Regions from separate parts of the Homo sapiens genome. Here regions 1, 3 and 4 are each linked to region 2. The links come from fine-mapping of genetic effects on gene expression. A gene starts in region 2. Each other region holds a variant in brackets. All regions are shown on one strand. Distances are from middle to middle. Region 1 has its middle 60 kb from the start of TMED7-TICAM2. Region 2 holds the start of CDO1 (cysteine dioxygenase type 1). Region 3 overlaps LOC124901048 (a long non-coding RNA gene). Region 4 has its middle 28 kb from the start of CDO1.

Evidence for each region. PIP is the estimated chance that this variant, and not a neighbour inherited with it, causes the effect.
Region 1: its variant is fine-mapped to the expression of CDO1 in lung (TOPMed, PIP above 0.99). The same link has a PIP of 0.9 or more in transverse colon.
Region 3: its variant is fine-mapped to the expression of CDO1 in blood mononuclear cells (TOPMed, PIP above 0.99). The same link has a PIP of 0.9 or more in whole blood.
Region 4: its variant is fine-mapped to the expression of CDO1 in whole blood (INTERVAL, PIP 0.94).

The regions. Positions count from the first base shown.
Region 1 is chr5:115,681,487-115,689,599 of GRCh38, reverse strand. No RefSeq gene overlaps it. Among named protein-coding and RNA genes, the nearest start is that of TMED7-TICAM2, 60 kb to the right of the region's middle. The variant G/T (reference allele first, on the strand shown) is at 3,515.
Region 2 is chr5:115,811,775-115,819,887 of GRCh38, reverse strand. It overlaps CDO1 (cysteine dioxygenase type 1), which reads left to right and starts at 3,229. Exons shown (of 5, transcript NM_001801.3): 1 at 3,229-3,660; 2 at 6,630-6,707. The coding sequence starts at 3,491. LOC124901049 (a long non-coding RNA gene) reads right to left here and starts at 2,800. Exons shown (of 2, transcript XR_007058908.1): 1 at 2,717-2,800.
Region 3 is chr5:115,746,576-115,754,688 of GRCh38, reverse strand. The region is part of intron 1 of LOC124901048 (a long non-coding RNA gene); the gene reads right to left. Among named protein-coding and RNA genes, the nearest start is that of CDO1, 66 kb to the left of the region's middle. The variant G/A (reference allele first, on the strand shown) is at 3,459.
Region 4 is chr5:115,784,104-115,792,216 of GRCh38, reverse strand. No RefSeq gene overlaps it. Among named protein-coding and RNA genes, the nearest start is that of CDO1, 28 kb to the left of the region's middle. The variant G/A (reference allele first, on the strand shown) is at 4,635.

The DNA.
Region 1 (8,113 bases), 130 kb after region 2:
GCAAAGGAAGAAGTAACAATATCTCTGTTCACAGATGATACAATTTTATATATGTATACAATTATAAAGATTTCACACAAAAATTAAAACTAATAAATGAATTTTGTAAAGTCACAGGATACAGAGTCAACACACAAAAATCAACTAGATTTTTATATACTAACAGTGAACAATCTGGAAGGGAAATTACAAAACCAATTCTGTTTACAATAGAATCAAAAAGAATAAAATACTTAGGAGTTAACCAAGAAAGTGAAAGACTTGTACAACAAAAACTACAAAACATTGCTGAAACTAATGAAGCCAGATAAATGAAAACACATCTCATGTTCATAAATCGGAAGACTTAATATTAAGGTATCAATACTACCCAAAGTGATTCAATGCAATTTCTATCCAAATCCCAATGACATTTTTTGCAGAATATAAAAACCTATCCTAAAATTTATATCGAACCTCAAGAGACTCTGAATAGTCAAAACAATCTTGAAAAAGAAGAACAAAACTGGAGGACTCATACTTCCTGATTTTAAAACTTACTACAAAGCTACAATAATCAAAAGTGTGATATGGGCATAAAGACAGACAAATGGAGTAAAATATAGAAAGCCCAGAAATAAACCCTTGCATATATGGTCAAATGATTTTTGTTAATAGTGTGAGACCATTCACTGGGGAAAGACAGTCTTTTCAACAAATGGTGCTGAAAAAAGTAGATATCCACATGTGAAAGAATAAAGATAGATTTTTACCTACAACCATGGACAAACATTAACTTAAAATAGATTAAAGACCTAAATTTAGGAGCTAAGACTATAAAATTCTTAGAAGAAAACATAAGGTAAAAGCTACAGAACATTGGATTTGGCAATACTTTCTTGGATGACAACAAAGGCACAGGAAACAAAAAAGTAGGCAAACTGGACTTGATAAAGTTTTTAAATATTGTGCATTAAAAGACAATGTCAATAGAGTAAAAGAGCAAGCTACAGAGTAAGAGAAAATATTTTTAAATTATATATCTGATAGGGATTAATATCTAGAATATATAGAGAACTCTTAAAACTTAACAACAGAAAAACAAACAACCTGGTTCAAAAATGAGCAAAGAACTTGGATGGACATTTCTCCAAAGAAGATACAAATGGCCAAAAAGGACATGAAAAGATGTTCAATATTACTTATCACTAGGGAAATGAAAATCAAAACTGTAATCAGATACCACCTCATACCAATCGGAATAGCTATGATCATAAAACAGAAAACTAGGTCAGGTGAGATGGCTCATGCTTGTAATCCCAGCATTTTGGGAGGCCGAGGTGGGCGGATCACCTGAGGTCAGGAGTTTGAGACCAGCCTGGCCAACATGGGGGAACCTCATCTCTACTAAAAATACAAAAATTAGCTGGGCATGGTAGTGCACACCCGCAATCCCAGCTACTCAGGAGGTTGAGGCAGGAGAATTGCTTGAACTTTAGAGGCGGAAGTTGCAGTAAGCTAGGATCGTGCCACTGCACTCCAGCCTGGGTGACAGAGCAACACTCTGTCTCAAAAATAAAAACAAAAACAAGTGCTGGTGAGAATGTGGATGAATTGGAATACTATATTGATGGCAATATAAAATACTATATTGATGGCAATATAAAGTGGTACAGCCACTGTGGAAAACAGTATAGCAGTTCCTAAAAAATTAAAAATAGAATTACCGTGTGCTCCACAAATTCTACTTCTGTGTCTGTCCACCAAATATTATACACTAGTGAAAACATGGAAGTGTTCCAAGTGTCCATGGACAGAAGAATGGATAAACAAAATGTGGTATCTGCATTGAATAGAATACTGTTTAACCTTAAAAAGGAAGAAAATTTTGACATATGCTATAACATGGTTGAACTTTGAGGACATTGTGCTTAGTGAAGCAAGCCGGTCACAGTCTCTTATATGAGAGAACTTAGAGTGATCAAAATCATAAGAGAGACAGTAAAATGATGATTGCTAGGGAATAAAAGGAGAGGGCAAAAGGGGGTTGTTATTTACTAGAGTTCCAGTTTTACAAGATGGTAGAGTTCTGGAGATGAATGGTATTGATAGTTATACAACATTATGAATGTGTTTAATACCACTGAACTACACTTAAAAATGAGTAAGATGGTAAATCTTATGTTGTGTATTTTTAACATAATTTTTAAAAATTGGGGAAAAAAGGTGACCCTTAGTGGCATGAGTGAAATTACATAGCAGGGTGTGAGGGGGACTTTCAAATTTTGTTGCTAAATATTATATTATTTTCACAGTGAAAATGTAATCATGTATTTCCTGAGCAACATATTAAAAGTTATATGAATTCAACAAAGGACCAGTTATCTAGAACATAAAAAGAAATCTCAAAACTCAGCACTAATAACAACCAATCCAACTAGAAAGTGGTCAAAAGGCATACATGATGTTCAATATCATTCACCATAAGAAAAATAAAAATTAAAATCACAGTTAAATGTCATGGCACACATATCAGAATGGCTAAAATAAAGCACAGTGAAAACACTGACCAGGTCATGGAAAAACCGGATCCAACTGCTGCTGGTAGGAATGTAAAATGGTACAACCACACTGGAAAATAATTTGACAATTTCCTATAAAACTAAAGCTTACAACCCAGCAATTGCACTCTTGGGCATTCAGTCCAAAGGAATGGAAACTTATGTTCACACAGCAGCTTTATTCATCACAACCCAAACTGGATAGGTGAGTCACTAAACAAGCTGTGGTGCATACACACCATGGAATACTGTTGAAATGGGATACAACTTGGATGCCTCTCCAGGGAATTATGCTGAGTGAAAAAAGTCAATCTAAAAGGTTAGGTATTATATGATTCCATTTATATAACATTTTTGAAGGGACAGCGTGTTAGGAATGGAAAACAGATTAGTGGTTGACAGGGGTTAGGGATGGAGAATACCGAGAAGTAGGTAAGAGAGGCAGAAGTCTTCGGGCTGCAAAAGCTTTCCCGGACCTAGTCAACCTCCAGCCCAGAGTTGTTGGAACCTCCAACCCTGAAGACTTTGGAACCTCGCCAAGGTTCTGGGTGATGTCAGGAATAAGTGGAGCCTGAAGATCCCTGGCCTCTTTTCAACTCAGTACCTCCAGAGTAGAAAGGAGATTGGGGATTTGTTGCTTTCTACAGCATACTTCTTGATAGATTCCTTACCCTTTTATAAATACCCCCAGAGGAGATGTGAAGGGAAACTCATTTAACAACTGCTGTAGACAATTAGCATCCAGCAATCATTAGCATTTGGCAGGCAAGCAGAAATATATTAAAAAAAGAAAACCTCTGCCTGATTATATTATAAGTATCACAAGAATTTCCCAAACAACCCAAGCAAATTCCTCAGCCTCTGCTAAAAGCCAAGCAGAGGAATAGCAGCTTTCTGGCAGCTCATGCTTTCCCTCCACTGTTATTTATAAATTCCACACATTTTCTTGATTGTTCTAGAGATTAGCAAAGTTG[G/T]TTTTTCCCTCAATTCCTAAATTGTGTCCCATTATCCAAAGCTGTGACCATTCAGATCCTGTCTGTAGGCTGCTGATAAGGATCCATTAAATGGTTTCCAAAAGCCATATACTACTATTCATTATATTTACAGAATCCCAAGTGTAGTTATTAAAATAGATGCTGATCATTTACATGCTGGAATTGGTTTATTTTGTTCTCTCATATGCTTAACCTCATGCCTTATTCGGAGAATGGAAGAAAATAATTATTTTCTCTCATCCATTTTCTTAATTTGCAATTGCAATCACTTCTGCAGGGGGACCTCTCTAAGAAGTCATTGCCAAGGGAAACAAAGAGTTGAGAAGGCAAAGCAACTAGCACCTGGCTGCTGGCCACTGTAGGGGCTGAGTGCATGCTGTGGGATTCTAGGGTGCTGCTGGCTCAGGCTTACCTTGACTGGATTCTTAACTTCTTATCTTTCCTCTCTCTTCTGGTTTGACTAAAAGTGATTACACAGATTATTCCCATAAAGCAGTTCCAAACCTATGTGGAAAATCAGCTGAGGCCGTAGCAGATTCTCACTTTTTACTCCCTGGATCAAAAGTAATCAGATCCTAAAATAGAATTTGAAAGGAAATCTAAAATTCCAGGCAAGACTTATACAATTGTGAAATCATTGTCTTACCGTCTTTTGTTTTTGTGCAATCATTAGCCTCTTTGATTCATGGCTTTCTTTGAAAACAAGAATTACCAGCCTACGCTCTAGGAAAATGCAAGTGTTTACAGATATATAAAATTTTGCTTTATAATTTCAGAGAGCCACAGACCATCTCAGCACCTAAGCCAATGCCTAAAGGATGTTACCAGTAGATTAGAATAAAACTATCAGGTGATCGAGGGAAGGAAATAGTGAAGCAAATGTGTAAAGCAAAGGAGTCTCTGTCTTGTATTTCAAATTTTTAGACATGACAAGAGAAAATAATTTTTTAAAACTCTATACCTGTGTTGGAACAAAACAGTTAGAGTTGCCGTAGTGAATCAGAAGCTGAAAAAGTCCTGGAAGATAGAAGGCAGAAAGAGCCATACCCCAAACCTTTGCAATGACATTGTGGCAAAAGGTGCCAGGGATCCTGAGATGCCCCAGTCTCAGAGGTGGCAGGCAGTGGAGCAGCTGGACCCTGAGGCAACCAAAAGGGTAATTGCTCAGGGATGGTGGGAGGAGGAGCCATGCTGATCAGCTTCTTTTTTCCATTCCATCTCATTCCCATGGACCAGAAGCAAACAAGAGAGGTATCTGTTCCTAGGTGAGAGAAGAGAGTGATGACTCTTGGGCTGCAGATAATACCAGAAAGCTGGTGACATCCAGGAAGACAGGGAAGCACCCTCATCTGGAAGACAGCCAATGGTCAACACCTCCCCAGTCAGTGCATGAAGCCTGGTAATACATCTATGGAACTAGACAGACAAAAGGGAGTTCTCAAATAGAGACACAAAAGAGGGTCATCAAACATCTGAAACCAGCCAAGGGCAAATTCAAAAGTCAGAATTGCCCTGGAGAGTAAATATAGTTACGCTATTTACTTATACTCTATATAGTTATGAAGCAAATTAAATGAGACTTAGAATTAGTATTGACAATATCCTCAGGAAAATTCAGATGCAAGAAAAGGTTAAAAGTTAACGGACAGGAAAAATATTTATATTTTATAGATCAGAAAAAGAAATATTCTGAATATATTCATAAGTAGTGATCAAACAAATGCAACAGGGACAAACTCAATAGAGAAAAATGGGCAAGAATCAAACAATATAAACAGATAATTAATAGGAGAGAAAAGATGGCCAATAAATATATCGAAATCCACTCCACCTCATTAGTAGTCATGGAAATACAAATTAATATGACAAGATCCCAATTTTTACTTACCAAATTGGGCTGGTTTAGTTATGGCACCAGAAGACTGGAAGAAGACATCTTCATTTTGAATATTACTATGGTTCTTTCTGAGTGATTTCCACAACAGCATCTCACATTTGGCAATTTTCTCATCTTAGCATTCTCTCCATTAGCATTTAATATTAAACATACAGAGAAATGCTCTCAAAAATAGCTGTAATCTAGTCAGCTCTTGTGCGTCCTTTTCCCACCCCCCAATACTAAGGGACAAATTATAAATCAGCTTGCTTGCAGGTGAAGCAAAGGAACAAAATCCCTCTATGGTTAGAGAACACAGTGACCCTGAGCCAGATTCGGGGTTGAGGAAAGCCAAGCTGCCTGAGGTGGGGGCTGTCAGTGATCACAGGTGGGCTCTTAGCTTGGGCATTTCTGGCTGTGACCAAAAGACCACTAAACGACTGAAAACTGATCTCGTTATGAATTTTGTTTCTTTCTGAAACTTTAATTCTGTTTCATTTTGTTTTTAATGTTAAAAAATGGGTACCAAATGGGAAGGAAAAAATGGTCAAAACCCCAAACATTCATTGCATAAAAGTAAAATAATGGGCCAGATTGTGCTGAAGCTTCAGTTAACTTCTCCAACAGATAAGATAAAAGGGAACAGCTCTGAACACAAACAATATGTCAGACAAGTAATAAGCATGACAGCATTACAATATCACAGATAGATGAGGAAAATGAGGCACAGAGAAGCTATGTAACATGCTGGATGTCACTACACTAGTAGATAGCAGAGACACTGTAAATCCAGGTCTGTTGGACTGTAGGTGGCACTTTTAACCACTATGCATTATTGCTTCAGCTTTATTAAGCGTGGTAACTCAGTGGCTGTAGCAGGAAACACTATGGACATGGTCTCTGTCTTCCAGAGGTTTACAGTTGAGTGCACATTGTCACACATCAATGCCAGGACAAGTCAGCATTGTTCATAGATCCACTGGGAGAGGAAAGCTGAGACAGATAAATAGATGACAGGTAGATAAATAGATAGACAGATAGATAACACTTGGAATAGATATATATTACATTTATATATTATATAATATGTATGTAATATATATAACAATCATAACACAAAAAGGGGGAAGAAGATAAAATTAAGTTGGTGTAAACCTAGAAGTAGATTCTGAAGCATAAAATGCATATGGTAAGTCTGCTACTATGAAAATAATGCAAAAAAATTAAAAAATTATTTTAAAGAACTAAAATGTTATACTAAAAATATTCACTTAAAAGAAAACAGTTAAGGGGATCAGTGGGAGGGAAAAGAGATGAAGCATATAGAAAACAAAAAGTAGAATGTCAGATGTAAATCCAATTATATCAGTAGTAACATTAAATGTGAATGAATTAAACAATCCAATCAAAAACAAGATCCTACTATATCCTGTCTATAATAAACATACTTTATATTCAAACATACAAATAGGTTGAAAATAAAAAGATGGAAAAAGATGTATCATGCAAATAGCAACCAAAGACAGCTGGAGTGGCTATGTGATATGAAACGAAATTGACAGTAAAAAAATGTTACTAAAGATAAAGATTGATATTTTATGGTCAACCCAGCAGGAAGATAACAATTAAAACTTATAAGTACCTAACAACAAAGACCAAAATACATGGAGAAAAACTGACAGAATTAAAGGAGAAATAGACAACAATAATTCACAGAGACTTCAGTAATCTATTTTCAATAATGAGTATAACCCAAAATAACTGAAAACATTCACACAAATGTCATAGCAGCATTATCTGATAGCCAAAAAATAGATTCAACCCAAGTGTCCATCAATTGATGAACGGGTAAACAAAACATAGCATATCTATACAATGCAATATTATTCAACTTTAAAGAGAAATGTCTACCAGTACATGCTACAACACAGATGAACCTAGAAAGTATAATGCTAAGTGAAAAAAGCTAGTCACAAAAGACCATACACATATACCGTGTAATTTCATTTACATGGAATATCTGAAATAGGCAAATTCATAGGAACAGAGAGTAGATGAGAATTTTCCAAGGATGATGGGAGGAGAAAATTAAGACTGACTGCTAAGGGGTATGAGGTTTCTTTTGGGGATGATGGAAATGTGCTGAAATTACATGTGGTAATCGTTGTACAATAAAATGAATATATTAAAAACTATTAAATTATACACTTTAAAATGATTAATTTCATGTTATATGAATTATATTTCAATAAAAGGAAGAGGAAGGGAAGAAGCAGGAAGAAGGAAGATACAAGCATTTCGTTTTAGAAAAAACTAGGGGAAATAGAGAGTCTCAAGAAGGAGGAAGTTGTCATGAGTGTGAAAATTTATGACAGTAACAAGTTAAATAAGAATGCAAAGGATCCCTTGGATTCAGGAGTCTCAGTGAAATCCAAAATGTGTGGCTTGCAAAGGGATTGGGTGATTTAAAAAAATAGAAACACTTTGAGATATTTTGTTGTGTAAAAAAAAAGGATAGCGACGTGCTATGAAGTTAATGTTCGTGTCTTCCCAAAATTTATATGTTGAAGCCCTCATCCCCAAAATGACGGTGTTTGGAGGTGGACATTTAGGAGGTAATTGGATCATGAGGTTGAAACCCTCATGAATGGGAGTAATGCCATTGTAAGAAGAGACATGAGAGACAGGATCCCTCTCTCTGC
Region 2 (8,113 bases):
AACATAACAAGACCACATCTCTACAAAAAAATAAAAAATCAGCCAAGTGTGGTGGTGCACGCCTGTAGTCCCTGCCACTCAGTAGGCGTAGGCAGTAGGCTTGCCTGAGCTCAGGTGTTGAAAGCTGCAGTGAGCCAATGGCTCCACTGCACTCCAGCCTCAGTGACACAGCAAGACCTTTGTCCAAAAAAACAAACAAAAGACCAGTCACAGACTGGGAGGAAATATATACAAATCACACATCTGACTTGTTTCTAGAATATATAATAAACTCTTAAAACTCAACAATAAGAACAGATAATTAAGTTTTTAAAAGGACAAAATACTTGGATATTTCACCAAAAATTATTTACAAATAACTAATCACATAAAAATATGCTCAACATCATTAGTCATTATGAGAGACAGGACAAGCTGGATTTCCTAGGCCGACTAAGAATTCCTAAGCCCTAGCTGGGAAAGGTGACTGCAACTACTTTTAAACACGGGGCTTGTAACTCAGCTCACACCCAACCAATCAGGCAGTAAAGAGGGCTCACTAAAATACAAATTAGGCTAAAGCAGGAGGTAAAGAAATAGTCAAATAATATATCGCCTGAGAGCATGGGGGAGGGACAATGATCCGGATATAAACCCAGGCATTAAAGCAGGGAGTGGCAACCCTCTTTGCGTGCCGTCGCATTGTATGGGAGCTGTGTTTTCACTCTATTAAATCTAGCAACTGCACACTCTTCTGGTCTGTGTTTGTTATGGCTCGAGCTGAGCTTTCGCTCGCTTTTCACCACTGCTGTTTGCCACTGTCACAGACCCGCCACCGACTTCCACCCCTCCAGATCCGGCAGGGTGTCCGCTGCTTTGCTGATCCAGCGAGGCACCCATTGCCACTCCCGATCCGGCTAAAGGCTTGCCATTGTTCCTGCATGGCTAAGTGCCCGGGTTCGTCCTATTTGAGCTGAACACTAGTAGCTGGGTTCCACGGTTCTCTTCTGTGACCCACGGCTTCTAATAGAGCTATAACACTCACCGCATGGTCCAAGGTTCCATTCCTTGGAATCCATGAGGCCAAGAACCCCAGTTCAGAGAACAAAAGGCTTGCTGCCATCCTGGGAGCGGTGGCCACCATCTTGGGAGCTCTAAGAACAAAGACCTGCCCATAAGAATTAGAGATATAGAAAATGAAGAACACAATGCAATATCAGCACACCTCTATTTGGCCAAAATTGGTAAAACTGACAATACCTGGCGAGGATGCGGGGCAACTAGAACTCATACATCACTGTTGAGAATGTGAAATGGCACAGACCCTTTGCAAATTAGTATGTCAATTTCTTGCAAATTTAAACATGCACTGACTAAATGGCCCAGCAATCTCACTCCTAGGTATTTACTCAGGTGAAATGAAAATTTCTATTCACCCGAAAAAACATTTGTTGAATAAATTAATGAATGAATAATAAACGAATGGAGCTATCATAATGTAAAATGACTAGATAATATCTAAAATTGCTGAAACAAAAAAAAATATAAGCCTATTTTTGGAAAAAGGAAGTAACTACCACAAGGAATAGTTAGAAGAGTTAAGAGACTGACTCTTTAAGCACAGGACAGATGGTCAGGAATGGTTAAAAGGGCCTGCTGCTTTTCATTGACCTTCCAGTACTATTGATTTTTTTTAACTACGTGAATATATTACTTTCATAAAAATGTAAAAAGAAAAAGAGGAGTCAGAGAAAGAAAATGAATTGTCAGAAAAATTTAGAAGTTTTATCAACTGAAATGCAGAAAAGATAAATTGTGCTTGCATTTCATTTTTGTTGTTCATTCCAAACATTTATGGATTAGACTAGCTGAAATGAAGTAATTAAGAGACTCAATAGAAAACATTGCCAAGAATAAAAAATAATTTGAGGAAACCATGAAAAGTTTACAGGTTACTCTGTCACAAAATACTTTGTTAATTCACTACCCCGCAGCAACACACATCACCAAGGCTGGCTTCTGGAATGCTTTCTACTTGTAGCCATTTTTGAACAATAGGTGATTCCGCTTTTAACAACACTGTTAGAATATAATGTAGCGAGTTTTACCAGAGATGTTTAAGACTACCTGGCACAAGTAAATTTCATTGTATACATGTATATACACGAGGGAGGGTGATCATAGTCTAGAAAAAAACAGGTCTTCAGAAGTCTAGAACTTTAATAACCTTAAATCCAAATTATTCCCTGCGTCCATCCATAATGAGAAGGAAGAAATCTACACTTGCATTTCTTCCACCTTTCACATCTTTCTCATTTAAATCCTACTGTACTTGATTTGTGTTGTTCCCAACGTACTAGGTGCTATGCATGACGTAGAAACGTGTTTCCTTATATGTATGTACTAGCAGGCTCCTTCAAGCACATGCCTAAGGTTGAAAGATTCAAATATAATTATAGCCTCTTAAATTATTGCGTCAGAGCCCGCCCTATCCCCTCAGAAAAAGCCCCCTTTTACACCATCAAATGAAATATCAGGTTATTTGCACTGGATATTTTTTAAAAGAAAATATTTGATTTTAAAATCAAAGAGTTCTTGGTTTTCCATCATTTCACTAATTGTCTTACTAGAGACCCGAGTCTCCTTTGTCAAAATATATTTCAGTACGCATTTTAAAAAATATGTGTGTGTGTATACTTAAATATATATATATATAAAGTCTTGGACTTATTTTCACCTAGCCTGGGGCATATCGTGGATAGTTTCAATCGACAAAACAGGCACTCTCTGGCCTAGGAGTGGAATCCATCCTCAATTTTCGCAGGCTCCTCACAATTCTCTATTTGGAAGAAGTGTCCCTCTCCTTCCCTTTTCTTTTCCTCCTTTACTCAGCGTCAGTCCCCGCAGCCATCTCCTCCGACCCTTTTTGTCTACGTCCCAGCGTCGCGAACCACAGCGGCGGAGGTGGAGCGGGGAGAGGCGTTAGGCCGGGCGGCTAAAACGCGCCGTTAAAGTGGGGGAGAGATTGCGCGGAGCCCACGCGATCCCTGGGACGCCGGAGACAACGGGGCTCTTGGGAAGGCGCGGAGCCCGGGGAAGCCGGGGATGTGCGCGTGAGCCGTGCCCGCAGGGTCTCCCCGCCTCCGCCACCTTTCTTGGGTGGCTCTCCGCCTCGTCCTCCCTCCGAGGGCCGTTGGTACATTCCTAGTGACTCCAAGCGCTTAAAAGGGGCCCGGGAGGATGAACCCCACAGATCTGAACCTGATTTGTGTGTGCACCGCGTCTCCAGCGATCCCGGATCCACTGCGCTGCCAGGGGCCTGGGGGTGGGTCTCTTGCTGTCTCTGCGACGACATCCTTACGTTTCGGCACTCTAATGCTGGGTTTGTGCGTGTGTGTCTGCTTAGCGGTCTAGCGGGCTGTTAGGCTCCCTCGCCCCCAGCTCCTTGGCTCGCTCAGCTCCTCCACCGCAGCCCAGCAGTGAGACGCGCGCGCAGCCAGCTCCCCACGAGATGGAACAGACCGAAGTGCTGAAGCCACGGACCCTGGCTGATCTGATCCGCATCCTGCACCAGCTCTTTGCCGGCGATGAGGTCAATGTAGAGGAGGTGCAGGCCATCATGGAAGCCTACGAGAGCGACCCCACCGAGTGGGCAATGTACGCCAAGTTCGACCAGTACAGGTGAGCGCGCTGCAGCTTCAATGCCAGGCGGCGCCCACTCGCCCCGTCTGAGGAGGAATGGACGTGGGGGACGCAGCCCAAAGTGACTGGCTCGGGAAGCTCGGGCCGCGCTGCGTCCGCCGCTCGCCCCCTCGCTGGCCAGCCGCGGGGCTGGCACGACTCGCTTGGGGCTCCGCGGCCACAGCGCAGGCGGAAGGTGGATCCTACTGGCCTTGCTGACCTCCGGCCGGGAACGGCGGACAGGCGCCGGGAAGGGAGGCCACCGCGCGTCTGCGAGATTTTCTGTTCTCTTCTCTCCCGCAAACCCCTCTGCTTCTAAACCACCAGTCCTCCTGCCCCTGGCCTCGGGAGCAATGCCCACACTCCCAAGCCATCGTTAACCCCGGGCGCGGAGATGCGGAGAGACCGCACTCAGGTTCGGGCCCTCCTGACACCTTAAGGAACCGTCTGGCCGGACTAGCAGAGGGTGCTCCCAGGGGAGCACTACATCAGCCATCGGGAGAAGTGTGTGATGTTGAAGAAGACAAGTCACCCGCGTCAGTTCTCCATCACTGCGCCTTCGGTCGCCTGCAACCGGGCACCTTATAGCAAGCATTTTTACTCATGTAAAATAGCGTCTTGTGGCCGTCAGCTGCCACTACGGAATTTCTGCTGTTCCCTTTCCCAAACCAATTTAACTAACTTCCCCGACTGTGGGTTTATTCAAATCCACTGCCAAGTTTCGCAGATTAAATATTCGACCGTCGTTTTTTTCAGCCCCCAAATGATCTGATTTATCTTATCCTTGCTTCTGACGATCTGTAATGTAAATTAAAGACCCCTACTTCCCAGATGTACTTGAGTGAGGTGCCCTGGTAAGCTGGCTTTTTTGCAGCCCCGGCTTGGTGATTAAGTCGAATCTCTCTACCAATCCTCCGGGGCCAGAGGTAAAATTTAATCACCCCGAAGTGTGAGAGGTTCTACTTTTTCTGAGCAGTTAGTGCGTCAGTCTTTGTGGTTTTTTGGGTTTAGGGTTAGGAGAAAGGGGTAAGTGAAAGAAAAGAATAAGGAAAGAAGTAAGTTTGTTTTTCTTGGGAGCAGGTTCTTTTAGTCACTCTTCAACATGTGGGATGTTTCGTAAAGTTTTGTTGGCATGGGCGGTTTCAACTGTATTTTAGGATTTGAAATAGAAAAAGTGAAGACCACTAAGGATCCCATTTTTCATATACAAGTGACTTGAGGAAATTCCTTTGGCTCCTATCAGCTTAGTTCATGGTAGAGCCCTTCTGTAGCCGTGAAAGCTAGCAGAGAGTCTAGCTTTTAAATTTTCTTGCATTTGCTCCAGGTAATTGAAGACTTGTTATGGGACAGGTACTCTTCCAGACACTTGACACATATGAGGAATGGCAGGCAATGAAGAAGTTGAATGACTTGCACTAGGTCTTCTATCGATAGCGGCTCCAGGCTCCCGGGGTTAGCATTGTTGTTCCAGAGCCTACACTCTAAACCACTGTTAAACCAGGACAGGTTGTAACAGTTTTTAATCTTTAATCTTTAGAACAAGTGTATTTTCAAGGACCTTGAACTAGTCTCGATTGACAAACTCTAAAGCTTTTGAAGTGCAACCAGCTGGGTTGATCGGTCTTTTCACAGATATCTGAGGTACAGCTCATTAACATAATGGATGTAGTCCCGAGGGGGCAGTTGGGGGAAGACAGGAGATGGGAGAGAAGTCAATTCTACAGTATTTTTTGCATTAAATAGGTGCCTAGCGCTGTGAAGGATTCTGTTCTCTGACTTTGGGAGGGCCAGTGCAGAAGAATCAAGACAGAATATGCTCCCGTGTGGGCCAGGCTGTGAATTCTTTGAAAGAAGCTGCAGAGAAGCAACAAAGATTATCCTAAGACTTCTGGAGGAAGAATTAGGATCCTTCTGCAGGAACTCAGTTTACTGTGAATTGAAGGTTGTGTACACAGCTTCTTGTTAGGTCATAAAGGCTACAAAGTAGGGAAAACTGAGGCTAAAAAGCACTTACTAAGTAACTCCCTCTAGGATCATGCTCTTCGGACACCTCGGGGTGGGGAGGAATGGGACAGGATGGAAGGGGCATGCTGGACAAGAGTTAACCGATGACGAAGGGAAAAAAAACTCCCAAAAAATGGAGTAAAGACCCCTTTTCTTTAACATGACAGTCTAAATGAATGTCATAATTATGAAACTTTGCTAACTAGATGCTGTCAACAGTACACCTTGGACCAATAGAAACTTTGACGTTGATTTTGCTTTTTTCACAGTCGTGGTCGTGGTTTGCAGTTTGTTGTTGGTGGTGGCAGTGGTGGTGGTTGGTTGTGGTGAGTGTGTCTGTGTGTATGTGTTTGCCAGTTACTGGTTTCTCCTAATTGTAAGAGGTTTAGAGGGTTCTTTACTTCACTAATGTAGTCTTCTTTGTTCTGGTAGTTAGATCAGCCCCCACGGTATTTGTGGAAGACTTTTCATTATAAGGGCTTTTGAATGTGGTTTGTGTCTAGGCTTTAGTAAAACTAAGAATTCTAGAACAGCTATTTAATGAAACCTTGTTTCTCAAGTCTTGATTTAGCTACAGGCAGAAAAAAGAAAAAAAAAAAAACAATAGCAACATTCTTGCCTCAACCAGTAATGCACTTTGGAAATACTTTCTCTGAGAAACTTACTCCATCAGTTTGAGGCTGTCACATTGAGAAACATGCAATTTCGGTTTTTTTCCTGTTATTTTTCCCGTGCCATTAATTAAAACTGAGCAGCTACCTCTGTAAATGCAGCGGTTCAAAATGAACTGTGAAAAAGGATTTTTCATTTGTGTTGGATTTCTAATTAGAAAACTGCATTCAAAGTTGCTTAGAGGTGGAAATGTTAACATTTGTGAATAAATGGTACTTGGTGACACACTTATTTTTTCCAGTGCTTGTTTCAGCAACGAACTTAAAACTTCTGAATATATTGTTTTTTTTTAGGTATACCCGAAATCTTGTGGATCAAGGAAATGGAAAATTTAATCTGATGATTCTCTGTTGGGGTGAAGGACATGGCAGGTAAAATAACTATTCATTCACAGATATTTATTAGAGCATGTTTTCTAGCATATGAAAAATATAGTACCAGGCTAGCCACAGGTCTTACAAGTAGTAACAAATCTCATTTTTTTTTTTTTTTTTTTTTTTTTTTGAGACAGTGGTTCACTCTTGTTGCCCAGGCTGGAGTGAAATGGCATGATCTCAGCTCACTGCAACTTCTGCCTCCTGGGTTCAAGCAATTCTCCTGCCTTAGCCTCCTGAGTAGCTGGGATTACAGGTATGCACCACCATGCCTGGCTAATTTTGTATTTTTAGTAGAGATGGGGTTTCACCATGTTGGTTAGGCTGGTCTCGAACTCCTGACCTCAGGTGATCCACTCACCTCGGCATCCCAAAGTGCTGGGATTACAGGTATGAGCCACCACACCCAGCCCTCATTTTCTACTTACTTGTTCACAATGTTCCCTAATCCCAACAAAAATTATCAATGGAATTAGCACAGGGCATTCAGGCATACACTACACATATTAAAACCAGCCCCCAAAATGAATAGTAAATCAAATGAGGTAAGTAACCCCCTTAAGTTAACCATACTCTGTTTTCTGTGCAGTAAAACTTTATGTGAAATTGTGTTTACACTTGACATTTGTGGTGTTTGAGGTGTGTAAACAATCGTGGGACCAAAGACCAAAGGATGGAGATTTGAAGCTAGAAAAGCATTGCAAATTCAGAAAATTTCTTTCTACTTCAAGTTAATTCTTTAGTTTCTTTACTGAAAAGGCAACTTATACTGATTCTTTGAAACTTAGCTCCTTAATTTATCTTTAGTTTCACGTTTGACAGTCTTATTATCAACTAAGTATTACTCTCTTTTGAAACATACCTTTCTCAGTCTTGAGAATGGTAAAAGCAATAATTTAGATCCATTTTTATGAAAGAAAACATGAATTTATAAGTGTTTGGAAAGTTAGGTCTGTAGAGTGCATTTATTTACTCATATGGAATGAAGTGTTTCCATTCATTCTCTCAATATTTTTGAAAGCACATTATGTCCAGAGTGGGACTAGACTCTGTGGATTTAGGAAACAAATTCTTTTTATGGTACATATATAAATTAATAAAATTCAATAGATGAAATGAATACCCAAAATGTATATAGATACATATATTTTAATTAACCCTGTAACCACGACTGCTTCATATACTTAAATACTATTCACTCTGAGATTGCATAAATAAATCCTTTGTTTCCTCAAATCCAATTAACTTTTTCCCACCAATGTTGGAAGGTAATCACAGGTAGAGCACTGTAAATTGACACAATGTTAACATTTTATATACAGTGTAACTTTAGGATGGTAATACACATATAGATACCTTCTCTCCCACAGCTCCCCAAAGGAAGGAGAAAAGACAAAAGCCTT
Region 3 (8,113 bases), 65 kb after region 2:
CCAGTCTTGTTTAAAAAAACTGAGCTTTATTTTTTCTCTTATAATAGTAGTACATGCTCGTAAAAATTCCAGAAAATTCAGAAAAGTATGAATAAGAATATAAAAGTTACCTGAGCTTTTACTGTGTGGAGGTAGCCACTGTTAACTTTTGAATAATAGCTTCCTGAATTTTTAAATATCCAGGGGAAATAGCAAACACACACACACACACACACGCACACATGCACACACACACACTCTCTCTCTCTATATATATGTATATATACACACACACATATGAGCATACATAGCTATACATACACAAATCTAATGATAAAGAGAAAATCTTATTCTTTTATTCTATTTACACTCCTCTCAGGGCCAGGCATTGGCTAGCACCAAAGCTTTCAAAAAATCAGGCAGGAGAAAGGCTGAACAGCTATTGGGATGGTGGAAGCCCGAATGATCCTCAAACCCTCAGAGAAGTCAGCAAAAACTCACAAAGGGCTTGCTGGGAATGAATTTATTGTGAAAGGACTGAGTTTTTACATCTGGGTTTTATAAGATAAAACAAGATCAGCACACAAGTACACAGAAGTCTAGAGGCACATAGAAACATGAAGAAGAAAACCTCAGGGAAGGTGTGAATCTAATCCAGTGGTCTCCAATCTTTTTGGCATCAGAGACCAGTTTTGTGGAAGACAATTTTTCCACAGACTAGAGTGGAGGGATGGCTTCAGGGTGATCGACCTCAGATAATCAGGCATTAGTTAGATTCTCATAAGGAGTGCCTAGATCCCTGGCACTTCACAATAGGGTTTGTGCTTCTATGAGAATCTAATGCCAGCCGCTGATCTAACAGGCGGTGGAACCCAAGTGGTAATGCTCACCTGCCGCTCACTTCTTGCTGTGTGACCCAGTTCCTTACAGGCCATGGACTGATACCAGTCTATGACCTGGGGAATGGGTACCCCTGATCTAATCCACATTTCTTCCACAGTAAAGCCATTTCATGCTTATGGATAGGAAGAATCGATATTGTTAAAATGGCGATACTGTCCAAAGCAATTTATAGATTCAATTCTATTCCCTTCAAATTACCAATGGCATTCTTCACATAATTTTAAAAAATTATTTTAATATATGGAATAAAAGAAAAGCCTGAATAGCCAAGGCAATCCTAACCAAAAAGAACAAATCTTGAGCCATCACATTGCTACAAACTATACTTCAAAGTATACTTCAAACTATTGTACAGAGCTACAGTAACCAAAACAGCATGAAAGTATTTGAAGTATACTTTGAATAGAGAGCCCAGAAATAACGCCACATACCTATGACCATCTGATCTTCCACATTGCTTGACAAAAACAAGCAATGGGGAAAGAACTCTTCATTCAATAAATGATCCTGGGACAACTGGCTAGCCATACACAGAAGACTGAAACTGGACCCCTAGCTTATATGACATACAAAAATCAATTCAAGATGGATTAAAGACTTAAATGTAAAATCTAAAACTATAAAAACCCTGGAAGATAATCTAGGAAATATCATTCTGGACACAGGAAGGACTTCACAAATGTTTCATGACAAAGACACCAAAAGTAATTGCAACAAAAGCCAAAATTGACAAATGGGATCTAATTAAACTAAAGATTCTGCACAGCAAAATAAACTGTCAACAAAGTAAACAACCTACATAATGGGAGAAGATATTTGCAAACCATGCATCCAAAAAAGTTCTAATATCCAGACTCTATAGGGAACTTAAACAAATTTACAAGCAAAAAACAAACAACCCATTAAAAAGTGGGCAAAGGACATTATCAGGTACTTTTCAAAAGAAGACATACATGTAGCCAAGAAGCATATGAAAAAATACTCAACATCACTAATTATTAGATAAATACAAATCAAAACCACAATGAGATACCATCCTGCACTAGTTAGAATTGGTATTATAAACAGTCAAAAAACAACAGATGCTGGCAAAGTTGCAGAAAAAAGGGAACACTTATACACTGTTGATGGGAGTGTAAATTAGTTAAGCCATTGTGAAAAGCAGTGTGGCAATCCCTCAAAGAACTTAAAACAGAATTACCATTTGACCTAGCAATTCCACTATTGGCTACATACCCAAAGGAATATGAATAGTTCTACCATAAAGACACATGAATGTGTATGTTCACGGCAGCACTATTCACAATAGCAAAGACATGGAATCAACCTAAATACTCATCAATGATAGACTGGATAAAGAAAATGTGGTGTGTGTATACACACACACACACACACACACACAGGCACCCACACACCCTATGGAATACTATGTAGGCATAAAAAGAATGAGATCATGTACTTTGCAGCAATATGGATGCAGCTGGAGGCGATTATCCTAAGCAAACTAACACAGGAACAGAAAATCAAATGCTGCATGTTCTCACTTATAAGTGGGAGCTACACAACGAGAACACATGGATACCAGGAGGGAAACAAGAGACATCGAAGGCCTACTTGAGAGTGGAGGGTGGGAGGAGGGAGAGGATCAGAAAAAAATACCTATTGGGTACTATGCTTATCACATGGGTAATGAAATTATCTGTACACCAAACCCCCGTGACATGCAGTTTACCTATATAACAAACCTGCACATGTACCCCTGAACCTAAAATAAAAGTTAGAAAAATAAAATAAAAGCTGTTGGAATTTTAAATTATTTTAGGCCTTAATGGAATGTGATTATGGGATTTGAGTCATGTAACAGACGTATATAACCTAGGCAGCTGTAACCTCTTTTTCTCTGGTTATACATTAGCCTTTTCCTTTACCTATATTATTTTGTAAAATGTTTTTAAAGACTAAAGTTTCCAGAAATGACTCATTTACTCTTAACTATTGATCTTCATTGTAGATTAATTTCCCTCTTTCTTCTCTTAACGCAAAGACGTCATGATTATCACATTGTCTAAGATGGAATGTTAAATATACTCTTTAAAATGGTGGGGGTGGGGAGGGGAACAAGCTATAACAAATCAAATTGCTGTAACTCATAAACCAGCCTTGTATGGAAATATAATCCTGTTAAATATCCTTGTTTTCTGCTGATATAAGTAAAACCTTGCCTTTTCAATTTCTGAGCACTGACCCCATTTCTCTGGAGTCTGTATTTTCCAAATGGCCATCCTCAGTTTTGCACTTGAATAAACTCATTTAAACTAGATTCTTATCCTTTCCGTTATTTCAGATTGACATTTTGGTGACCCAGATGGGACCCATAGTGAGCTTCCTACATTGACTCTTTCTGCTTTCTTTACAGTCCAGCATGCTGGTACCAGCATGAACTGTTTCCATCCAACTGACTTTTGCTGGAGTTTGTGGGAAGCCCTTGGTAAGGCTCCTCTCTGGTTTCAAATCTCCCTGGCTTAGGTGAAATGCAGACTGTATTCAAGCAACCTGATTCCATACCGGATGGAGCT[G/A]GAATTGAAGCTTAACTTTAAAGCTTTAAGGTAGTAGTTTCATTTTTTTATCTCTCTAGAGATTCTGTTGTTTGCAAGTTTGTGGTTTTAATCATCTTTGAGGTTAAGATTTTGTTCGTCTTACTTGCTAAAGTTTGCAACCTTTTCTCTAGTTCAAAATCTGGTTTCTCTTTAATAGGAGAAAGTAAATGTCTATGGATTAAGCAAAATTGTGATTTAAATTGGTGAGGTTTTGAAGTTTGGTTCAATTTGGCAAATTAGAATTCTTCTTTTGAGTGACCAATAATTAACAAAAGACCTTTATTAGGATGTGGTAAGTCCTGAAGAAAAGGGACACTGTTCCTCCCAGCCAAAGGCACCTTAGGCAACCAAGGACTTGTGCAAGTTTCAGAGCTTATCAATCGAGACAAGAAATGGTCCCACAGGGAATTCCCAAAGAAGAAAATACAGGGAAATTTGCTTAAACTTGTGGGCACATATAAGGGACTGATCTCCCAGTGCCTTAAGCACACTGAATTCCTGTTTTTCATTGAGACACATAAAAGGGAAGAACCAACCCAAGGGTGACACCTTGGGGAGCTAGTCCCTTAAGCAGTACACTCAGTCCAAAACACCTTTCCCTTTTAGCTTTTAGTCCTTAAGAGAAAAGTGCAAATGATGGACAATCAGCCATCTAAAACCAAGTCTTCCTTGAGGAAAAATCCACCTTTAGAGACTCCAGCTAGATTCATGTACAATACTTACGGCACCACACCTTGTCATTATTTTTAAAAATGGTCCCATATAACTTGGAAGAACCAAAACTTCAATGGCTGAAATGGGATACCTTTGAAAAACTTCAACTAATTTACTTGCAAGTTCAAATTTAAAAAAGCTGACTAGAATAAAACAGAGTAATTGGGAATGTCATTTTCAATGGTATTTGAATGCATCCAAAAGAGGTTCTGATAAAGTTATTTCTTTGCAGGAAAAAAAACCCAGAAGACTGTCTAAAACAATTTCTGAATTTAAAATGGTTGCTGAAGCTTCTCCTCCCTCAGAAGATTTCCCTTCTCCTCCCTCGGGTCCTTTTTGTCTCTATCCTTTACTGTCTAAATTACCTTGCCCTGCTATGGAATTTAAGTATTTGAGCTTATGACCCTGGTATTTCTGATTTATATCAACTAGTTTACATGTTAGCTTCAAAAACAAGGCTAAAAATGAGGCTTGAATAGATAAAGCCCGTTGGCAAAACCCCTAGAGGATTTCCATAAATGTTCAAAAGAAGACTGCAGGAATGCCCGTGACACTGAAAGGCTCTACTTGCAACCATTTCTTTAGTCTTCTAAAAGGGAGTTGATTGGAATAAAATACAGCGATGTCAACAACATCTAGGTGAGTCAGTGGTGTTATATTTTGAAAGATTTGAAAAGACTTTTAGACAATATTCAGGTTTATCTGAGGTGAGTTCTGCTAATCATCAAAATGAGACTCTCCTGAACTCCAAGTTTATAAATGGGCTACGCAAAAAATTAGCTCTAATAGTAAAGAGACATTGCCCTAGCTGGGCTACTTCTCACACTCACAATTTGATTAATCTTGCTGAAAAGTTGTCTTGTACTTTAATTAAAAATGAAAAAGGGAAAGAGACTAGACCAAAAAATAAAGCTAAGAAGATTATGAATCTGCAGCTGAAATAATTACTCACCCAGTCTGGACTGCCAAAATATACCCAATAAACCTCTGGACAGATCTAACCCTCCAAGTTGCAATTATTGAAAAAAATGGCCACTTTAAAAAAAGATTGCTGAAAATTAACAGAAGGAAAAACAACAGCCAAAGGAGGAAAAGATAAAATAGGAGTGCTCCAAGGAACTTAGAGAGATCTTTACTTATCTCCTTACTAATACTCTGGGAGAAATATAAATCTCATCTTATTACAAGGTCTCAATCCTCAGAGTAAACACTTGGTCCAAATCATAGGTGTCACAAATACTCCTATCAACAAACAAGTCTCAACCTGTAGCTTTTCAACCAGGTCCCTTGCAAGTGACTCATATTTTCCTTTTGGTTCCATGAGCCACCATCCCTGTAATAGAAAGATACTTCCTGGAACTATATAAATACTCATATTTATTTTTCCTTAAAGGAGGAACTGTATTGAGAATTAGATGGTGTGGTATGCACGAGAGACTACATTATTTGTCTACTCTAGTCTTTTAAAAATGAATTCACTTTCTATCTTTTCCAAGCCATAAAGAAGTTTCCTCTTTTGAGCCAACTTATGAAAGATAATAAACTACATCACATTTTAATGACACTATTTTGGCTTTTATGAGCCAGCAGTGAAGAATTGTTTCTCAGGACTTTGAATCTGTTGTCAGTCTCGGAACTATACAGGCATCTTCATTAACCTGAGCCTCTGGATCTGACTTGTGTTAGAGAGTGTCCTCTTTGTTTAAATTTTAAGATTCTTGTTCTTAAGGGCAACCACAAGGCTCCAGGGGAAAGGAGAACCTTCTATATGGAGACTGTTTACTAACTTGTTTTATTCTGTTACACATTAAAATTATTTACCCAGAAGCTAGATACTGAACAAATCATTTTGGAGATTGTGGACCCATAATTATATCCTAACTTATATTATAGTTATTCATGTAGTTAACTCCCTTACTAAATTATATAGTCCTGGAGGGCAGAACCTTTGTCTTTTACATATGTGTCTTCTCCTTTAGCACCTAGTATAGAGTGGGGGACACAGAAGAGCAGTGTCCTTATTACAGGTTTGGACTTTAACCAGATGGGGAGTAGAAATCTGACTCCATCACTAATTGGCTGTATGACTGTTGTCTTAGTTGCCTATCTGCAAAGTGGGGAGCCAAATTCTCCTCTTCCCTTCTCCCCTCCCTCCCATCCTTTTTTCCTTTAACAAACACTTACTGAACACCTACTAAGTGCTTGGCACCATGGGATACAAGATAAAATAATGAATAACATGGAAATGGTTGTTGTATTGGACCCCTATTGACTCCAGTAGGGATGACACTATGTCTGAGAAGATGAAGAAGAGACAGTGAACAAGACATAGGGTTTACTGGGGGGATTTACATACAGGTATGGGCCTTTGGTGGCAGGCTGGTCAGGCAAACCGCTACCGTTTATAAAAAGCAGACAGTTTATATAGCATTTTCACTTAGCACCCTCCACCTAGCTACCGCAATCTAACCAAAACAAACGGCTTTGATCCCCTGTGTGGCCTGCATTGCAAGGGATGAGCCAGGGGCTCAGATGTCCTTCATAGATAAGGAGTGAATCTGGATTGGCCACTCCTAGATTCCTTAGATTGGGACACTGAGCAAATTCTTCTTAGACCATAGGGTCATTTTCAGGATGTGCTGAAGTTACTGCTATCGGGCCTGTCTGCCATACAATGGTCTTTGTTCCTTTGGAATGGTTTTAAGATTAAGAAAGATGATGAAAATGAGTACCAATGAAGTATGATGTGAGATAGATAGAGAGATAGAGAAGTAGATAGGATTGAATAGGTATTGTTCAATAAATTAATGCTGATGGGGAGAGACAAAGGGAATATAATACTTTTAAAAAATATGATTGATTACCAATAAAAGAGAAAGATAAAACAAAGAAAGAAAGAGCTAGGAAAGGAATTCAAAGAAAACTGGAGATATGGATGCAAAAGAAAATTAAATGAGAAGAAAGGGGATATGAAGAACAGGCATAAACTTAACCTAGTAGCTTGGCTGTGGTGTATCTAGAATATCATCAGGGCATAAAAATGTCACTAAATTGTAACCAAAAATATCTTGCAGTACTCTCCTCTCACTCACTGCTGGATCCTGAGAACTGCCTTTGGCTTACGGTTTAGTGCTCAGGTGTTAAGGGAGAGGAGAAAACAAGGATAACTTGGAGACTCTGAGCTTGTGTAGCTAGAAATGATGACACCATTCATATAAATAAAATGAGGCATATAAATTAGTTAGGTCTTGAGTTTGGTTTAAAACTGATGAAGTTTCAGGTCTAAATGGCTTATCTATGTAGATATGACCAATGGCTACTGGAGGTTGGAATGCAAATTGGGGAAATAATCCCTTTGTAAAAACACACCTAAACAATGCACAGTGAAGCCACAAAATGGATAACTCTTGAGGGAAATGACAGAGACAAAGCCAAAGAGAATGCACTGAATCTTGAGAGTCTTTTCCTGGATGGTAAGCTTCAGGAAAATAAGAGAAGGAAATGCTTCAATCAAAGAAAACTAGAGTTGGAGCAAGGTGGAGCAAGGTGGCGAAATAGAAAGCTCCACAGATTGCAACCCCGTGCAAAGACACCAAGTTAACAACTATCTACACAGAAAAAAAAAACATCTTCATAAGAACCAAAAATCAGATGAGCACTCACAGTACCTGGTTTTAACTTCATATTGTTGAAAGAGGCACTAAAGAGATAGAAAAAACAGTCCCAAATTGCTGACACCATCCCTCCATGCTCCCTCTGGCAGCAGCGGTGTGGTGTGGAGATCATCTCCAGCTAGGGAGGGAGAACACAGCAATTGTGAGGCATTGAACTCAGTGCTGTGTTTGAACAGAAAGGAAAACCAAACTAAACTCAGCTGGAGCCCACCCATGGAGGGAACATTTAAACCAGCCCCAGCCAGA
Region 4 (8,113 bases), 28 kb after region 2:
TCCGTACCCGTATCAGATAACGGCAGGAAACTGACGTAGACCCAACTGGCAAAAAAATTGTTTTTAATGTATAGGTATCAATTTTAGTCTGGGAAAGTCAAACTCAACCTCATTTCTTTTAACTTCAAAATCCAAAATGCTTGGAATCAGAAGTCTGTTACTTAACAAAATAATTTTCACCTCTTTCTTTCAGAATAGCCATGAAATTACCTCTTTTTGCCTCTTTCACCCTGTCTTCACCCCACAAAATGTAAAGAAATCAATGAACAAATTTATTTAAGGATATTTCAATGATTCAAATAAACAATGGTCCAAATAGCCAGTCTAGGTGGGAGGTGAGATTTTAGAATGATCCTGGGTCATCTCAGCATGAGAGAGTGGCTTTGAAATTGCACAGCAAAGTCACATAGGGAAGAACTAATACAGTGGTCAGGATGCTGAAATAAAAGCCTCTGACTCACCAGCTGAGCCCGACCTGGTCCTCTGGGCCTCAGAGTATCTGAACAGGCTAGGGTAAGAAATAATAAATAATAATAAATACATCATTAGAGTAATAATAAAATAAAAATGACTATTGTAGCACAGCTACTTGTGCTAGGCACTGCACTGCATATTCACATATTATTTTACTTGATCTTCTCAACAATCTGTGAGGGAGCTGCTTTTATCCGCATTTTGCAGACAAGGACAATCAAAGACTCAGAGCAAGTGGCAAAGTGACAGATTTCTGATTGGGACCAAGTTCTATCTGATTCCAAAGTTTGTGCTCCGTGCATTCTGCTGCTTTGCCTCTCTAGCAGGTTTTTTCTCACAAATTTGATCAGGAGACCAGTAAAGCATCCTGATTTCAGTCTGTGAAATTCAGATGCTAAGAGTCAGGAAACTCAGCCCTTAGGCATTAAACTTCCAGAGGTTCTTCCCAAATTCCCCGGGCTAGTGACTCTTATTTTAGAAGTTCTCACTTTTCCATCCCACTGGAGGTCATTTTCTAATTTCTCATAGTCCTAATAAATATTTTCTACTATTGAATAAAAACAAGATACCAAAGGGTCCTATTGCCCTCTGCTCATTCTTATCATGTTTTTGCTTCTTCAGTCACTAAATAAGAGCTTTTGAATGCTAAGCTTCCCTTACCTCCCACCTTTCTCCAATTCCTATTTGCTGAGATCCTTTGGTATTTTTAGTTCTACACTACTATTAGATTTTTCTCTCATATGTCTTCAATTTTAAGAGTTTATTTGGCATTGACATAAAAAAGTCCTTATCTCTGTAGCACTATTTATTTATATTTAAACAACAATATAATTGTGCATCACTCTCGCATCTTCTTTTGAGCTTCCCTGAGCTTGAGGTCTCCTTTCTTAGCGTTTGCCTCAGCTAAGATATGTGTGGGAATATATTATCTAACTCATAGTATATTCACCCATAGGTTGCTTTTTATTCTGAGAGGCTAATGGCATCTTGGCTGAGAGTAGGCTTCTTAGACTGTGCTCCTTTCATTTGACATCCTGTAGATACTATTCCACCATCCTCTGGCTTCCATCACTGCATTTGAGTAGTCTGATGCCAATCTGAGATTTTGTCTTTTGTCTGGAAGCATGTAAGATTTTCTCTTTATCCTTTCATTCAGAAATTTACTAGGCTGCATCTAGATATTGACATATGACTTATTTTTCTAATCCTGCTTGAAATTTAGCAAACCTTTTCAAGGTGGTGACTTCCGTCTTTACATAGATCAGAAGTTTTGTTCTTTCTTTTGAAATATTTCTTCCACTTGATTAGCACACCATTGATTGGATTCTCAACTGCTTCTTTCCTCTCTTTCCATTTTTTACTGGATTATTTAACTTAAAAACAATGCTTCATAGTCACAGAAAGTCCTTTTTTGCTTTAAAAGAATCCTCTTGAGTGGGTGCTTATTTATTTGTTTATTATTATTTTAGTTAAAGTTGTCTTTTGTCTCCACAGCAATTACCATAGTAGAAGCTAACACAATTCTGTCTATTCTTGTTACCACAATGAGACACCACTTTACACCCACTAGGATGGCTAGAATATAAAAGTCAGATAACAAGTGCTGATGAGGTTTTGGAGAAATTGGAACCTTCACACACTGTGGTGGGAATGAAAAACAGTGCAGTCACTTCGGAAAATGGCTGGTAGTATCTCAAATGATTAAACATAGACTTACCATATGACCCAGCGATTTCAACCGTAAGTAACAACCCAAATAGCAACAACCCAAAAGTCCATCAGCTGTAAATGGATAAACGAAATGTGATACATCGATACAATGGAATATTATTTGGCCATAAAAAAGAATGAAGTACTAACACTTGGCTATAACTGGGCAACACAGCAAGACCTCATCTCTACAAAATTTTTTTTAATTAGTTGAGTGTGGTGATGCACACCTGTAGTCCTAGTTACTCATGAGGCTAAGGTAAGAGGATTGTTTGAGCCCAGGAGTTCAAGGCTGCAATGAGCTATGATCACATCACTGCACTCCAGCCTGAGCAACCAAGTGAGACCTTGTCTCAAAAAGAAACTTGCTATAGCACAGATTACTTTGAAAACATTATGCTAAATGTGAAAGAATCCAGTCACAGGAGACCATGTTATATGGTTCTAGTTATACAAAATGTCTGGAATCAGCAAATCTATAAACATAGAAAGTACATTAGCAGTGCATAAAGATGGGTGTATTCGTCTGTTTACATTGCTCTAAAGGAATACCTGAGACTGGGTAATTTATAAAGAAAAGAGGTTTATTTTGACTCATGATTCTGCAGGCTGTACAGGAAGCATGATGCCAGTATCTGCGTCTGGTGAGGGCCTCAGGAAGTTTTCACTCACGGCAGAAGGCGAAGGTGGAGCAGCCATGTCACATGGCGAGAGAGGGAGCAAGGGGGTGGGGGTACTGCATTCTTAAACAACCAGCTCTCACATTAACTCAGAGTGAAAACTCATTCATCGTCATGAGGACAACACTGAGCTGTTCATGAGGGATCCGCCCTCATAACCCAAACTCCTCCCATTAGACCCACCTCCAACATTAGAGGTCACATTTCAATATGAGATTTAGAGGGGACAAACATCCCAACCATATCATTTGACCCCCAGGCCCCCAAATCTCATGCTTTTCTCACACTGCAAAATATAATTATCCCTTCCTAATGGTCACCAAAAGTCTTCACTCCAGCATCACTCAAAAGTGCAAGGTCCAAAGTCTCATTTGAGACTCAAGGCAGGTTTCTTCTACTTATGAGTCTGTAAGATCAAAAGCAGTTATTTACATCCAAGATACAATGGTGGCACAGGCATTGGGTAAACAATGGGGGTCTGGAGTATAAAGGATGGGGGACAAAACCAAATAGCAAAAGGGCACAGGTTTTTTTTTGAGATGGTGAAAATGTTCTGAAATTGACTGTGGCCATGGTTGCATCTATATGAATATAATAAAAACCATTGAGTTGTACACTTCAAGTAAGTGGGTTATATGGTATGTTTCTCTCTCAATAAAGCTGCTAAAAACTATGCTATTCTGAAAAAAAGAATAATATTGCTAATGATATTGCGTAAGAACAAAGATTAAAATAGCTAAGCCTGTATAACCAATAAAAGGCAAGCAATATTACTAAGTCTTATACAACAGGCAAAATTATATATAAAGTGCCCCAATTTATTATAAACTGTATATATATGGCTATATATATAAAACACATAAAAATCAATCTCTACTAAAACTTAAATTTGAGCTAAATATACAGTTGCAGGTTAGCAAATAATAAAACAGAATGCCCAGTTAAGTTTTACTTCTAGTTGCCTATATATATACATTTAGAGAAATGAAAAATATTACATAAGACATACTTTACTATAAAAAGTATTTCTTGTTTATCTGAAATAAATAATAACCATCAAAATTACATATCCATTTTTAAAATTTTATCACCCTAATGGCTCTCCTTAACAGCTCTTTGTTTTCCAGAATTTACTTATAAAACTCCTTGTGGTTATAATCTATACTCCATTTCCATTTTAACACGTCATCTACAGTGGTCCCATCCAACTAGTTTTATTCTTTTGTGCATTTAACATTTACCAATGACAAAACATGCTCATTACGAGCTGGTATTCTAGGCATGTACTGGCCTAAAATTAAAATCCCAGTAAGTACTCTTGGAATTTAATTTGTTGAAGAACATACCATCTTTGGTGACATAACTTGCTTTTCTATTCTTAAGGATTATATTGCATCTTGATCAATGACTTTTAAAATGTTGTCCAATGTCAAAAAAGAGCATTGCTATGAATTTTTATTCCCTTCCTCTTCAACAATACATATGATGATTCCTCTTGTTTCCATGTCGAAAGTGTATTTAATAATATCTCTATAAAAGAATCAAATTCTTCAAGGGATGGTATCAATTTCAAAACATAGTTATAATAAGTGCCATAATAATGAATTAATCCAAGTTGGAATTTCTTTTCTTGTTCAAAGTAATGTTGCCACTTTTAAAAACAAGTTTTGTAGCTACTTAGGAGGCTGAGGCAGGCAGATGGCTTGAGCTCCCAGGAGGCAGAGGTTGCAGTGAGCTGTGATTGCACCACTGCACTGTAGCCTGGGTGAC[G/A]GAGCAAGGCCATGTCTCAAGAAAAGTAAATAAATAAAAACAAAATAAAATTAAAACAACTTTGATAATTAAAGGAATAAATTTTTCAAGTCATTCTCTAAGGCATTTAATAATTTCCTTAAACAACTACTTCAAAAATGTTCTTCTTTTAATTTGCATAATCCTCTTGCTAAAGTAATTGCAAAATATGAAAAAGAAATAAGTAGCCTTTACTTAATAAACTTTTTAAGTACTCAACAAGAATTTGGGGGGGGGTCTTTCCTTCAGAATTAAAGTATGATTTCATATGAGGATTCTCCCAAATACATTCGTTAAAGAGACCAATAAGTTTTGAATCTGATAGAATGGAAAAACGCTGCTTATAAGTATAGTAAGTCCTCACTTTAGGTCCTCCATAGGTTCTTAGAAACTGTGACTAAGTGGAATTGCATATAATGAAACTAATTCACCATAGGCTGATTGGTGTAAACAAGAGTAAAGTTTCTATGGCATGTTTCTGGTCACAAAAACATCATCAAAGTTCTGCATAAAGACCCAAAACACTTCTAATACTAAACATTGAAATAAATGTGAGCTATACATACTATTGGGAAAGATTAATACAAACAAGATAATTATTTACCCAATTGTTCCAGTTTAGAGTCAAGGGTGGCCGGAGCCTATCCCAGCAGCTCAGGGCATAGGTGGGAACCCACGCTGGCCAGGATGCCAACTCACTGCAGGGTGCTCTCACACACACTCCTACTGTGACAATTTAGACAACTTTTTTCATCAACGTTACAAGGGAATGATGTTGAACAAAACGATGTTATTTGAGGACATGCTGCATAAATGCTGAAGTAAGAGAAGAATTTCATAACAATTTTGTGACAATATCAGTAGAAGGAACATCATATGCTATTTGAACAGCATTATGCAGAATACAGGCAGGACAGTCAACATCTTCTATACAATCATTCATGCTTTGCTTCAACTTTGACTACACATTTTCTGTACCTGTATGCATACATTTACATGGTCCCCACCAAAAGCTATACAATTTATCTCATGAATTCCTAGTTCACTAATAAAGTCCACTAAAATTTTCCAATGTGCCTGAAGTCTCCTCTGGAAGATTTTACTCACAATAGTCTTATAAACAATCCTTTTTTACAGGAAAAATGCTGCACAAGAAATAAGAAATTTTTTTCTGATCGTGATTATTTTATTCACACTTGGCTATGCCACAAAAGGTGAGACATTAGATCTTTGATAATCTGTAGAGTAAATGCAGCTATTATATTTTTTATTATTGCTGTAGATTTTGTCCTGGCACTTAAATATTTGCTTGCAGTTTTGGAATCGAAAAATGCTCTGGTAGCAGTACCTTCAGATAGTCATTTGAGCTTTAAGATTGATGATGACATACACCAGGGAAAGCCATTACAGTTTCTGTTGCCCAGGCTGGTCTCAAATTCCTAGTTCAAGAGTTCCTACTGCTTTTGCCTCCCAAAATGCTGGGATTACAGGCATGAGCCACATCTGGCCTATAGCTGACTTTTTTTTTATGCTGAATGAACAACTTCATTACCCAAAGAGCTTGAAGATAACTTACAAGACACAGTAAGAACTGTGCTTGTAAGATAGTCTGCTGGAGCAAAGCCAGAGTTGATCTTATGTAGGTTTTCAGAATCCTGACATTCAGAGACTGCCGGGCTTTCAGAAGTGAAGTGCCTAGAGACTGAAGGATTTTCAGCTACCTTACTGTGGTCACTGGAGGAAGGCTGCTGTTGACTGGCTGACTCTGGAGCAAGGGTACTGGAGGGAGACCCTTGCCGATTGGCTGTTATCTGTGAGTGTGGGGCATCTCAGATTACTGAGACTGATTAGCTCTCAGACGCTTTGGGCTCTTATGGATTTTCTCCATTTCAGAAGCTTGTAGGGAGGCTGTTTTCTGACTGATTGATGATGAGAAGCATGGCCATAGGAGTGAAGCAATGGCTGTTTGGCTGATTTTCAGAGCCTGTGTGTCGATACAAAGTCGTCTGGGAATGAACAATGCTTACTCATTTACAACTCGGAAATGTGGCCAAAAAAATAGTCTTTTACTTTCTTAAATATGAAAAATAAGTACTTTTAATTCTCAGTTTCCTCTTTTGGTCTTCTCTTAGCCAAATCTGCAGGAGAGACAATGAGGGATTGTCCAGATGTTTATTTCCAAAAGAATGATTTCTAGCTGGTGTTGCTATTTAAGTAATTTAAGTACTAATTATGGGTGCAGAAAAATAGCTCTAGCTGCTGAATTTTTCTAATTTATTGGGGGGAAAAGCCAAATACAGGGCATTTAATGTGTTCTGACAAAGTCAATACAGGACACTGGATATGCCCTGTATGCAAATAATGCCTGGCAACCCTACCCAAACACAATATTCTAGTTGTCACAAACATTAAACGTTTTATGTAACAGTAATAAGATTTTCTTTGTATAGTTTTTAAAAAAATATCATTTGAACGACCTTGGTTTCTCTAAAAACATCAAATTAAATTGAGCTTATTCCTTTTTTCTGTCTCTCATTTATTCTCCTCAAATTACATAGAAATCTTGAAGATCTATTCTGTTAAGGGGCACTTAGTTTTTCTTTTACTCATTGTGTTGCCGATGATGGTAATAATTTCCCACTAAAAATTCTTAAAATAAGGTCTGACTTAGCATATAACCCTTTTGCATTTGCTTACCTGTTTTGCTTTATTCAAAGGCATAATTCCACCTTCCCTCTGTGAGATCAATTAACATTACCAGGAATGTAGTTAAGGGCTAGTTTTGCCTTTTTTAAACAACAAGTTGAAAATTTCATATTTCTTTAGACGTGGCTTAATGCAATTTGCAAATCATAAAGCAAAAGTATTTTTAAGGGGGCTTTAAGAAATCTCTCACAGGTCTCCTAATGGAGATCAAATATAGTTATAATACTGATAAACGTTCTGGACAAATCAGCCCATCCCCTTTCTCTTGGGTGCACAAAGCAGTGGGCTGCAGCTGTTTGACACCCTAGATGGGGCCTGGGGATAAAATGACAAAGCAGTGCTACCACATGGCTGTCAGCTTCCAAGGTGGGTGGGAAAACCTCTCACCCAGAAGGCAATGGTTGGAACACCTCTTCTTGGCCACAAGTCCCATCCCACCCCACATAGGAAGTTATACATCTTTTATCTGTTTATGTCCCTGGAGGCAAGCTGTAGTCAACTGCAGTGGAATCCACAGACCTGTATATACAGAACCACAGGTACAAAGATAAGAACACAACTACCAATCACCAAACATTTGAGGAACACTGGGAAAGTGAGGCACCAAGCTCAACAAACAAGCAAACTCAAACAGGGTAAATAGAACAAACAGAAAAGACTCCAAAATAGTTGTAATTAATACCCTCAGTGTGATAGAAGAGGGACATTGCATATTCATAGGCAACAAGATAGGCAATTAGAAAAAATGTTATATA